Homo sapiens: one gene and its partner. The protein of the gene in region 2 interacts with the protein of the main gene of each other region in a pairwise test. Each region holds a gene or a part of one and is shown on either strand. Other genes may lie near its edges.

Region 1 (5,185 bases), on a different chromosome or scaffold from region 2:
ATCCCAGCTACTCCTGAAGCTGAGGTGAGAGAACCACTTGAACCCAGGAGTCACATATTGTAGTGAGCCGAGATGGCGCCATTGCACTCCAGCCTGGGTGACAGAGACTCCAACTCAAAAAAAAAAAAAAAAAAAAACGCCAGCTCTGATTGTCAAGTAAATGGAAAAATGGGGTTCACGAGCAGCTCTCCTTGCAAGAAGGCACCTGCTCAGACTTCAGGCAAGGGGTGACTTCTTTGTGCACCTGCTCCAGAAGCAGAAGGGGTGGGGCGCCAGGTTCAAGGCTCAGGGTGCTACACAGCCTGGCTCTGAGCATTTGCATTCCTAAAGAACAAACCTGACACAGATGCTTCTTACCTGCAGGAAGCAGGCTTAGGGCCATCTTGGTTTTCTGAGTATAACCAGAACCAACTGAGCCACCCAAAGTCCGTGGGGTGCCAGGGGTGTGGGAACCCATCAGGACCCACGGTCACCATCTTGATTGCACATGAGAACCACCTGGGACTTTACAAAATGTCAATGATCACCCCATACCAATGAGACAGAATCCTTATGCAGGGGGCCCAGAGAAACAGTATTTTATTTTTTCAAAGAGCTCTCCAGCCAGGGTTGAGAACCGCAGATCCTTCTAGCCCAGCCCTAAAATTTTTTAGCTGCTGAACTAAGGCTGAGCATCTGCTTAAGATCATGAGCAAGAGGGCAGAAGTACCCGCAACGTAAACATGAAAAAAAGGACTTTGCCATTTGGTTGTGAAGTCCTGGCTTCTCGGTTCACTCGCTGTGTGACCTTGGACAAGTCACTTAGCCTCTCTGAGCCTGAGCTATTAAAATGAAATCATAGATATAAATCACCCAGCATGTTCCTGGTACCCAGCAGGCCCTCAATAAATATTTGTTTCTATCTCTTTCTCTCTAGGATCTAAGGCTCTTCTCAACGCAGGATGCATTAAGATCCTTTGCTCTGACGTATGCGCTATCCACCGACTTTTTTTGTTTGTTTCTGGCTTTTTTTGTGTTGTTTTTCCTTTTACAGGGTCTGGCTCTGTCACCCAGTCTGGAGTGCAGTGGTGTGATCACGGCTCACTGCCGCCTCAACTTCCTGGGCTTAAACAATCGTCCTGTCTCTGCCTGCCGAGTAGCTGGGACTACAGGCAGCACCACCATGCCCAGCTAATTATTTGATTTGATTTGATTTTTTTGTAGAGACAGGGTCTCGCTATGTTGCCCAGGCTGGTCTCGAACTCCTGGGCTCAAGCCATCCTCCCGCCTCAGCCTCCCAAAATGCTGGGATGATAAACATGAGCCACTGCGCCCGGCTCACCCAAAGAGATTTTGACTCTCTAAAGGTTTGTTCCCCACTCTGTGTCTTTTCCTCTAATCCCAGAACTCACCTACTACAGAGCACTGTTGCTCAAACATCAGCGTACACAGAGTACCCAGGGCTGTGGTGAACACGACAAGTCCTGATTCAGTAGTTCTGGGTGGTGCCCAACATCCTAATGGCCCTGGTGATGCTGGTGTTTCGGGGCCTGACCACATCAGAGCCCCAAGGCTTGTCCAGGAGCCCCGCAGTGGCCAGTCTGCCTCCCTGCTGACTCACGAGCCCCCCAGAGCCGGTCTCTTTATCTTACTCATCTCTGTGTCTCCTCCACGGTATGTGCTCACTAAACGGATGTTGAAGAAATAAACAAACCATGGAGAAAACCATTTTCCAGCTAAGTAAAAACAGACTATTTTATTTGTCCTGTGATTGACAGCCCTCCTGGCTGATTCCAGAATTGCCCTCTTGGCTGGTGGGAGGACAGTGTGGTCGAACGGGCCTGACACTTGGAACCTGGAGTCCTGGTTTTGAATCCTGGCCCTTCCACTCACCCGTGGGATGACCCTGGGCACGTTACCAAGCTCTTTGAGTCACGATGTCCTCATCCATAAAATGAAAATGATAATGACTGACCACCGTGTGGTCCCAATGATGGCTAGAAACATGCTTTATAAACTGTAAAGTACTCCTGATAAGGTCTCCTTATTACGGCTGGGTTTTCTTTTCTTTTCCTTTCTTTTCTTTTTCTTTTTTTTTTTTTTTTGAGGGCAGGCAGTACTTTTCACTTCCCTAAAGCTTGAAAGTGGCTTGTGATGGATTGGGTGGGGAACACACCAAGGGTCTGGTTGGAGATGGGTGCAGTGGCTGGGCCATGAGGCAGGTCAGTGGTGCCTCCTCTGGCAGTGACAGTGGCCAGGTGAAATGTGAGGATGGTGCAGGAGAGTTGAGGAGGCAAGGCTTCCTGGAGGAGGCTGGCAGGAGTAGGTATGCAAGGCTGGTCTGAGGGTATAGACGCCAGGACAGAAGAAGGCAGGCAGAGCAGTGAGAGTCTTTTGATGGGCATGTGGCCAGGCTCTAGACTGGGTATGCGGGAGGCAAGGCTAGACCAACAGCGACCCTGGAGCATTATAAGAAAACAAGTAATTATAGGCCGGGCACGGCGGCTCACACCTGTAATCCCAACACTTTGGGAAGCCAAGGCGGGAGGACTGCTTGAGCCCAGGAGTTCAAGACCAGCCTGGGCAACACAGCAAGACCCCATCTCTACAAAAAAAATTCTAGGCCAGGAACGATGGCTTATACCTGTAATCCCAGCACTTTGGGAGGCTGAGGCAGGCGGCTCACCTGAGGTCAGGAGTTCGAGGCCAGCCTGGTCAACAAGTGAGACCCTGTCTCTACTAAAAATACAAAAAATTAGCCGGGCGTGGTGGCGCTCGCCTGTAATCCCAGCTACTCGAGAGGCCGAGGCAGGAGAATCACTTGAACCCAGGAGGCGAAGGTTGTAGTGAACCGAGATGGCGCCACTGCACTCCAGCCTGAGCAACAGAGTGAGACTCTGTCTCAAATAAATAAATAAATAAATAAATAAATAAATAAATAAATAAATTTTAAAGATCAGCTAAGCATGGTGGCATGCTCCTGTAGTCCCAGCACTCAGGAGGCTAAGGCAGGAGGATCACTTGAGCCCAGGAGTCCCAGGCAAAACTGAGCTATGATGGTGCCACTGCACTCCAGACTGGACAATAGAGCGAGACCATCTCTTACATAAAAATAAATAAAGTAATTATTAATATATCCTGTGGCCCAGGGCTGAACTACCCACCTAGGCCCAGGGTTCCCTTGCTGACCCCATTCACCACTAACCATGAGCTTCAGGATGCAGGCAAGAGCAAGACACAGACCTGCCCTCAATAAGCTCAGTGTTCAATGGGGGCCACAGAGAGAAATGATGCCAGCACAAGGTCACAGGAACTAGGAGAGGTCACCAGCCCTGCTATAGTTCAGAGGAGGGAGTGGCCAATTTTGCCTCTCTGTCTACCCCAGCCAATGAGTCTCCACTGCACCCGCTGGGAAGTTTATCTGCCTAGTCTAGATGTCTCTTTATTTATGTTCTTCTGTCACTGGAATGCCCCATCCCCTCCTCCACCCAGCAAGCACTAACTCATGCTACAAGATGTGCTTCAGTCCTCGGGGAGGGCTCCCAACCCCAAAGCCTGTGCTTTATCCACGTGCTCTTGGTAATTATCCCATTACCTAGTACCACATCTATCCCTCTAAGGAAGAGTTAATCACAGCCTGCTTGATTGCTCACACTTCTGCTGTCTCGGGTTCGTCTCCCCAGTCAGATTATAACAATAATCACTGAACTAGTGCTCCACAGTTTACAAAATGCCTTCAGGCATATTGGGCTTAATTGAATCCCCACAATAAATCAGCCAGGTAAGTATTATGTTTATTTGACAATAAGGAAACCGAGGCTTAGAAAGGTTAGACAACTTCCCAGAGACCACAAGGCCCATGTACATGCCCAGCTGTAAGCCTCAAATGCCTTCTAACTCCAATGCCAGCATCTGCTCAGTACTCAGAGGCTGCCTGAGGCAGTGGGTAAAGGTTGAGACCGTTTCCAGCTGTGTGACTTCTGGTGAGTTACTTAACCTCTCTGTGCCTCAATCGTCCTGAGAGTAAAATGTGGCTGATACCCACCTCATCCGTTCTTGTCAAGATTTAAAAAGGTAATACAATGATGTCCTTAGAATACTGCCAAACACAATAATTAGTTAGTTATTATTATACCTTGGCTGATTCTCATGGTCTCCTAACTCATTAAATTTTTTCTAATTCATTTTTTATATCTCATAATACATTCTTCCCCTTTTTTCCCTTTGCTTACCAAGCTCTGCAACCTCATAATACATTTGATAGGTAGTCATTAAACAAAATAATTTTTTTGCAGATTGACTAACGTTGGGTTTAGGGCTGTTCTCTTTTCTTTTCTTTTCTTTTTCTTTTTCTTTTTTTTTTATTTGAGATGGGGTCTCACTCTGTTGCCCAGGCCGGAATGCAGTGGCACAATCTTTGCTCACTGCAACCTCTGCCTCCCGGGCTCAAGCAATCCTCCCACCTCAACCTCCAAAGTTACTGGGACAACAGGCACGTGATACCACAACCAGCTAATTTTATTTTTTGTAGAGATGGGGTCTTACTATGTTGTCCAGGCTGGTTCTTTTTCTTTACTCTCCTACACCCCTAAAGAGTTTCAACACCAGAGGCTGGGTGCAGTGGCTCACACCTGAAATCCCAGCACTTTGGGAGGCTGAGGTGGGAAGATCGCTTGAGGCTAGTTCAAGACCAGCCTGGGAAAACACAGTGAGACCTCCGTCTTAAAAAAAAAAAAAGTTAAAAATAAGAGTTTCAACATCAGAAAAATTCTCTTTTTCTGCTCCACTCTACTTCACCCCCACCCACCCCACCCAGGTCAAATCTGGCCAATCACAAATGTCCCACAGAATGTAAAACACCAGAAAACACTGACCTAGACTCTCCTGTTGGGCCGTCCCTGGATAGCAGGGAAACATACCACTCACGGGTGGAAACTTTCACAAACCTAATTTCTATCACTATTATGGGTCAAAGTCTTACGCATATTTCTCTATTGCTCTAGTTTTTACTTATTTGAGACTCTAGAAGGAACGGGTTGTTAAAAAATAATATCTATTTATTTTCTTATTTCATTTATTAAAAAAAAAAATAGGGCTGGGTGCCATGGCTCATGCCTGTAGTCCCAGCACTTTGGGAGGCAGAAGCAGAAGAATCACTTGACGCCAGGAGTTTGAGACCAGTCCGGGCAACACAGTGAGACCCCCA
Region 2 (5,185 bases):
CTTATTCAAAAACTCTGTGGATGACCAAAGTGACAGACTAAAGTCAGAGTTTTAAGAGTACTAGCACATCTTTGGTTTTTCTTCATTGTATTCCACAGCCTATTAATTGTTCCACTATTTTTGTTTGTTTGTTTTAGAGACCGGGTCTTGCTCTGTCACCTAGACTGGAGTGCAGTGGGGTGATCACAGCTCACTGCAGGCTGGAACTCCTGGACTCAAGCATAGTTCCACTATTCCCAGCCTAGTTCCACTATTTAACATATATTCTATTCTCCACTGTTAGCTGTTTACAGTCTTCTAACCTTGTTAGATGGTAAGCTTCTTGAGAGCAGACACAATATGTTACCGACTTTTGGTACACAGAAGAATGCTGTATATCAAAAAGGAAACTGGTAGAATAGAATTGCTTTTGAATGTAGCTTGTACTTGGCACCAGTGAAGAAAATAAAGCATCTCTAAACAGTAATTTTTCTCCCTTCACAACTAGAAACTAATTTAAATAGGCATAACATAGTATAGGTATGTTTGTACATAAATACAAATTCCTTAAGCTTCTTAAAAGTGAAGCATAAAACACCTGTATTACCAACTACACCAGAGGTGTAGTGTAGTCTGGGGATTCCCAGAAGTCAGAGACCCTTTCCAGGAATCTGGGAAGTAAAAGCCGCTTTCATAATAATATTATTAATAAGATGCTATTTATCTATTTTACTCTCATTCTCTCATGATTGAACAGTGGGGATTTTTAGATGACTTGTGATATCATTATTCTGAAGGCTAATAGAATATGTGTTTGGGTAGTCTTGTGTGTGAGTGAATGGACACCACTTTATCTTGCCCTTTTGATTCTTATGTACCTGCTGTTCCTGCCATTTCGGAATCTGAAGGATGCAAGTAGGATAAAAAGCAAATCAAAGTTCTTTGCTATTAAGGTTATTCCAAATATGATCTTGGACAGACAGTATACACTGAGTAAACTTTCAGACTTTCAAGTTACGAAATTTTGGCTTTCCCACTAAGACGTGAATTGAAAAACTTAGGGAAAGTAAACAGTGAAAGATAGATCAAGCGTGATTGGGGCTGACTAAATGATATTTTTCTGAAGATACTCTCCCAGTATAACTGCGAATTCTTTGGGGAACACTGCTTCATTTAATGACATATTGGGAATGAAAAACAAACAAGAAATGAATGTTGAAATGAATTAACATAAAAATACTTCTGCATAGGATTTCTACCATCCTTAGAATCATCTCTCCTACTCCTGCCAGCCCCTTAGAATATCAACTGTTTTGGAAATCCGAAAATTTTGTTGAGTTGTTTTCTAAACCCTGAATAATTTGTTAGATAACTGCAGGTTAGACCACTATGGGGGGTCTTGGTCACAGCACATGGTCACATTTTCCTGAAAAAAAATTTAAAATTCTACTAATTGGTAAATATCCTATGAAAGTTTAGATTATCTTTTCACATCTTAATTTATAAAGTACTCCTTATAAAATAGAAAATCATAATGTCTTTGAACAAAGTCTAATAATTTCTATAAATCATTACCTTAGATAACAGCTTGTCAAATAAGCTATCCATTATCGCTACAAGCTTAGCTGATATTTCAGCTATGTGATCATGGTAGTCCTGCAATGAGAAATGATAATTGTATTTTTAAGTCCCTGGGACACATTTTTAAAATACTTAACAATTAAGGATCTAAACTTATGAAACGCCAATAGAAAATATATGAAAAAGTACCTTAGTGATATGATCAAAATGCCTAAGCATGCTATATTGCTTAGGTGGTAGTCGAGCTTCAAAATGAGCCCGGATCACAGGAATGTAGTGCACAATTAACTGCAAACATCGTGAAGAAAGAGCTGAAGATCCAGGGAGTAGATATATAATGGAGAAATAAAAAAAAAAAAGGTATTAGTTGATTTTAATTACAAATCAAATCAAATAAAAAACATCACTTATAAAGAACCAGTTTATTTCATAAACGAAGAGCCCTATGGCAGAAGGCAACATATTTCATTTTGTCTAATAATTTGATACTGAATAATGTAATGAACATGCTGCTTTCACAAAGGACTCAAGTTGTGAGTATTATCAGTATCACAATAACAAGACAACTGATTCTCTTATGACATTCAGATAGCTTTCACCCCCAAATACTTTATACACATTATATCTTAATATTTTCTAGAGTGGTGTAACTTCCAAGTAACTTATACTTGGAGGGGAAATGCATCGTAACCTTTTCCCCATGGTTAGTTTTTTTCAGTGATGAGTATACATAAAAGAGTAAGTAGCATTTATTTTTAGAGTAATGCCACTTTGGTTAGAGCCATGAAAACATGAGGTATAAAAAAACATGATGAGAACAGTGACATCACTGTTAACACTTCAGCAAGTGAATTAAACGCAAGAATCCATACCCAAATTTTTTGTAGTTATCGTTTTTAGTCCAACAACTTGCAGTGCACCAGCTCCAAGAACTAACTGGCAACTTCTTGAATTGAAGTACTAACAAAAGAAGGAGAAAAAAACCCCAAAATTTACTAAAAACTGTTCTTTATATCCTGGCAATGTGCTATTATAAAAATACATTCCCCTTTCCTCTCATTCAATGGCCAAATGAATTATCTAGTAGAAGCAATTAGTATCTATTTATTTAATGAAAAAGAAATGAGAAGGGGAGATTCTAAATGATAATATTTACTGATAAGAAAAAAGTTGAAAAATTCTAAAAATCAGTTCGCAGAAATTAATCTTTAATTTGCATGTACAAAACAAATTCGGTTTCAGTCATTCTTGTTGGGAAGTCCTATTTTCAAAAGTTATAAAAATCTGTCTTGGCTAAAACATGACAACTCAAGTCAGAACATAATTAACAGATTAGAGGTTTGAAAAAAATAATAAAGCATTTCCTCCGTACTGGTAGTTTAAAATATCTCAATATGAAATGGCTGAATAAAATCATCACATTTTCATTTTATATCAATGGTTCTGAAAGAATGATGCAAGAAAAATCTCTAACCTTAGTGAGATGAATTTTGTAAAGTTCAGTGAATTCCTTCCATGCACATTTGAAGCCAGTCCAGGTTTTTTGACCTAAGTGGCCTCAGTCATGTTCAGCACCTAACGAACAAATCATCTCCTGTCTCCAATGTCATTAACAACTCTATGGGTGAATGAGGATCACTAACTGTGGAGTAAGAAGGAAGCAGGCAGCCTGTTTCCAATAACATGTTGTGATTCAACCACAATCAAATGTTATAAAACTAATGTCTTAAAGTTAATTTGACCTTGAAATGTCTTTGAGTTAAGATTAGTCACACCCTAATGTATTAATTCCTCGAAAAATTTTTCCATAATGGAGTGAAGTCATACATACCTTCAATAAATCTGACAGACGAGTAAGCATGTCAGTAGTAACAGATGGGATGTTATCCACACACTGGCAATATTCAAGGATAATTCTTATTAACAGCAATACGGTTCTACAAGAAAAGAAAAATGGCCCAATAGGAAATCAAAACAAGAAAAATCAAAAGGATTTGGCATATAAAAATCAAATTACTTAATGGCACAAAGGATCTCTGAGAATATAATGACCTTGGTAACTATGTTAAAGTATGCATTTTACCTACTAGTACAGCAGGTTCTTGACTAACACAAGACAAGAGAGGTGTCTAGAATGCAAAATTTAAAGAGGCTCTTACTCTGTGCAATTGCAGGATCAGCTTGCACAACACTGAGAATGAGTGGCTCCTTAAATTCTGTACAACAGGCATAATACTCTCTGTATGGCATTCTTATTAAGTAAGGGAGTCGCTTCAGTAAGACAGGTATTGCATTCATTAGCCAATTCAGAAACACTGACAAAAAGCCTATCCAGTGTTTCTGATTACCAACATAGTAGGTCCTCCATCATAACTAATGAATTGATGAAGAAAACCTAGTCCAGATTTTCTTAGTGAGATGGAAAAAAAAAAAATCTATAATGGCTTCTAAGGAAAACATGTCTCCTAAGAATTTTATTGGTAGGTCACAAAAGGTTCTCTGGCTGGGCGCGGTGGCTCACACCTGTAATCCCAGCACTTTGGGAGGTCAAGGCAGGCAGATCACTGGAGGTCGGGAGTTCGAGACCAGCCTGACAATGGAGAAGACCAGCCTGACAGTGGAGAAACCCTGTCTCTATTAAAAATTCAAAATTAGCTGGGCGTGGTGCTGCACATCTGTAATCCCAGCTACTGGGGAGGCTGAGGCAGGAGAATCGTTTGAACCTGGGAGCCGGAGGTTGTGGTGAGCTGAGATCATGCCATGGCACTCCAGCCTGGGCAACAAGAGCAAAGCTCCGTCTCAAAAAAAAAAAAAAAAAAAAAAAAAAAGTTTTCCGAAGATGATAAAGTTATCACCTCCATAGAAGGACAAATCACACGTTAAAAAGACACACTACTGGGAAGTTAAAGAAGATTGAAATTAAGGAGAAAGCCATTCATCATAGGATATCTAAGTTCAATGACATGCTCAGAAATAAGATCTACGTAAAATAAGGATTTATAAGAGCCTGAAAGATATCAGGAACTAATGATTCAAGAAAGATGGTGTCTAGCCTTTATAACACCTTGTCAGACCATATATGCATACTGGTCTCTATGCTTATTTCTCCTAGAGTCTGCCTAAATGAGCATGAGTCCATTGCTTATCTTTTGTAATTGTCTCTCAGAAGTTGTAATAGTTCCCCTTTAGCCAGGGAATTTAGTTTTTTGGCAACAGACTCTCTGCCTAAAGAGCCAAAAGCAAGATGGCCAGAGGGGACCATATCCATCAAGCAAGTGAAGAGTGACCAGATAACCAGTAGTTAAGGAGGGAAATCATAATTATATTGAAGGGATGGGATTACAGGAAGACTGAAGAAAGCTTTCCCTACCAGAAACAGGGAAGGACTTCAGAAGAGAAAAGAATGGAGGCTTTAGTTTAGAATGTGTGGACTTCAGGTATTTGAATACAGATACAGAAAAAGGATTAATTCTATACATACTTTTTGAGTGCTTATTATGGTGCCAAGAAAAATAAAAACGGTAAGACCTCATCTCTACCTTTGAGGAATTCAGAGTCAAATTAGAAGACATATACATAAATAAACAATTCTATTATACTACGGTAAGTGCCATGATTGAGGAAC

The links. Proteins that work in one complex are often made in the same cells at the same time.
Region 1: the proteins of VPS54 (region 2) and HIP1 interact in binary tests that used the Homo sapiens proteins (3 or more experiments, as listed by UniProt).

What each region holds. Positions count from the first base shown.
Region 1 is NC_000007.14:75,731,363-75,736,547, forward strand, and holds part of HIP1 (huntingtin-interacting protein 1), read right to left. Parts: intron 1-5,185. UniProt on the Homo sapiens protein: Plays a role in clathrin-mediated endocytosis and trafficking. Involved in regulating AMPA receptor trafficking in the central nervous system in an NMDA-dependent manner. Regulates presynaptic nerve terminal activity.
Region 2 is NC_000002.12:63,910,791-63,915,975, forward strand, and holds part of VPS54 (vacuolar protein sorting-associated protein 54), read right to left. Parts: intron 3,498-5,185; coding exon 3,392-3,497; intron 3,136-3,391; exon of another isoform or gene 3,035-3,135; intron 2,521-3,034; coding exon 2,433-2,520; intron 1,872-2,432; coding exon 1,750-1,871; intron 1,636-1,749; coding exon 1,555-1,635; intron 1-1,554. UniProt on the Homo sapiens protein: Acts as a component of the GARP complex that is involved in retrograde transport from early and late endosomes to the trans-Golgi network (TGN).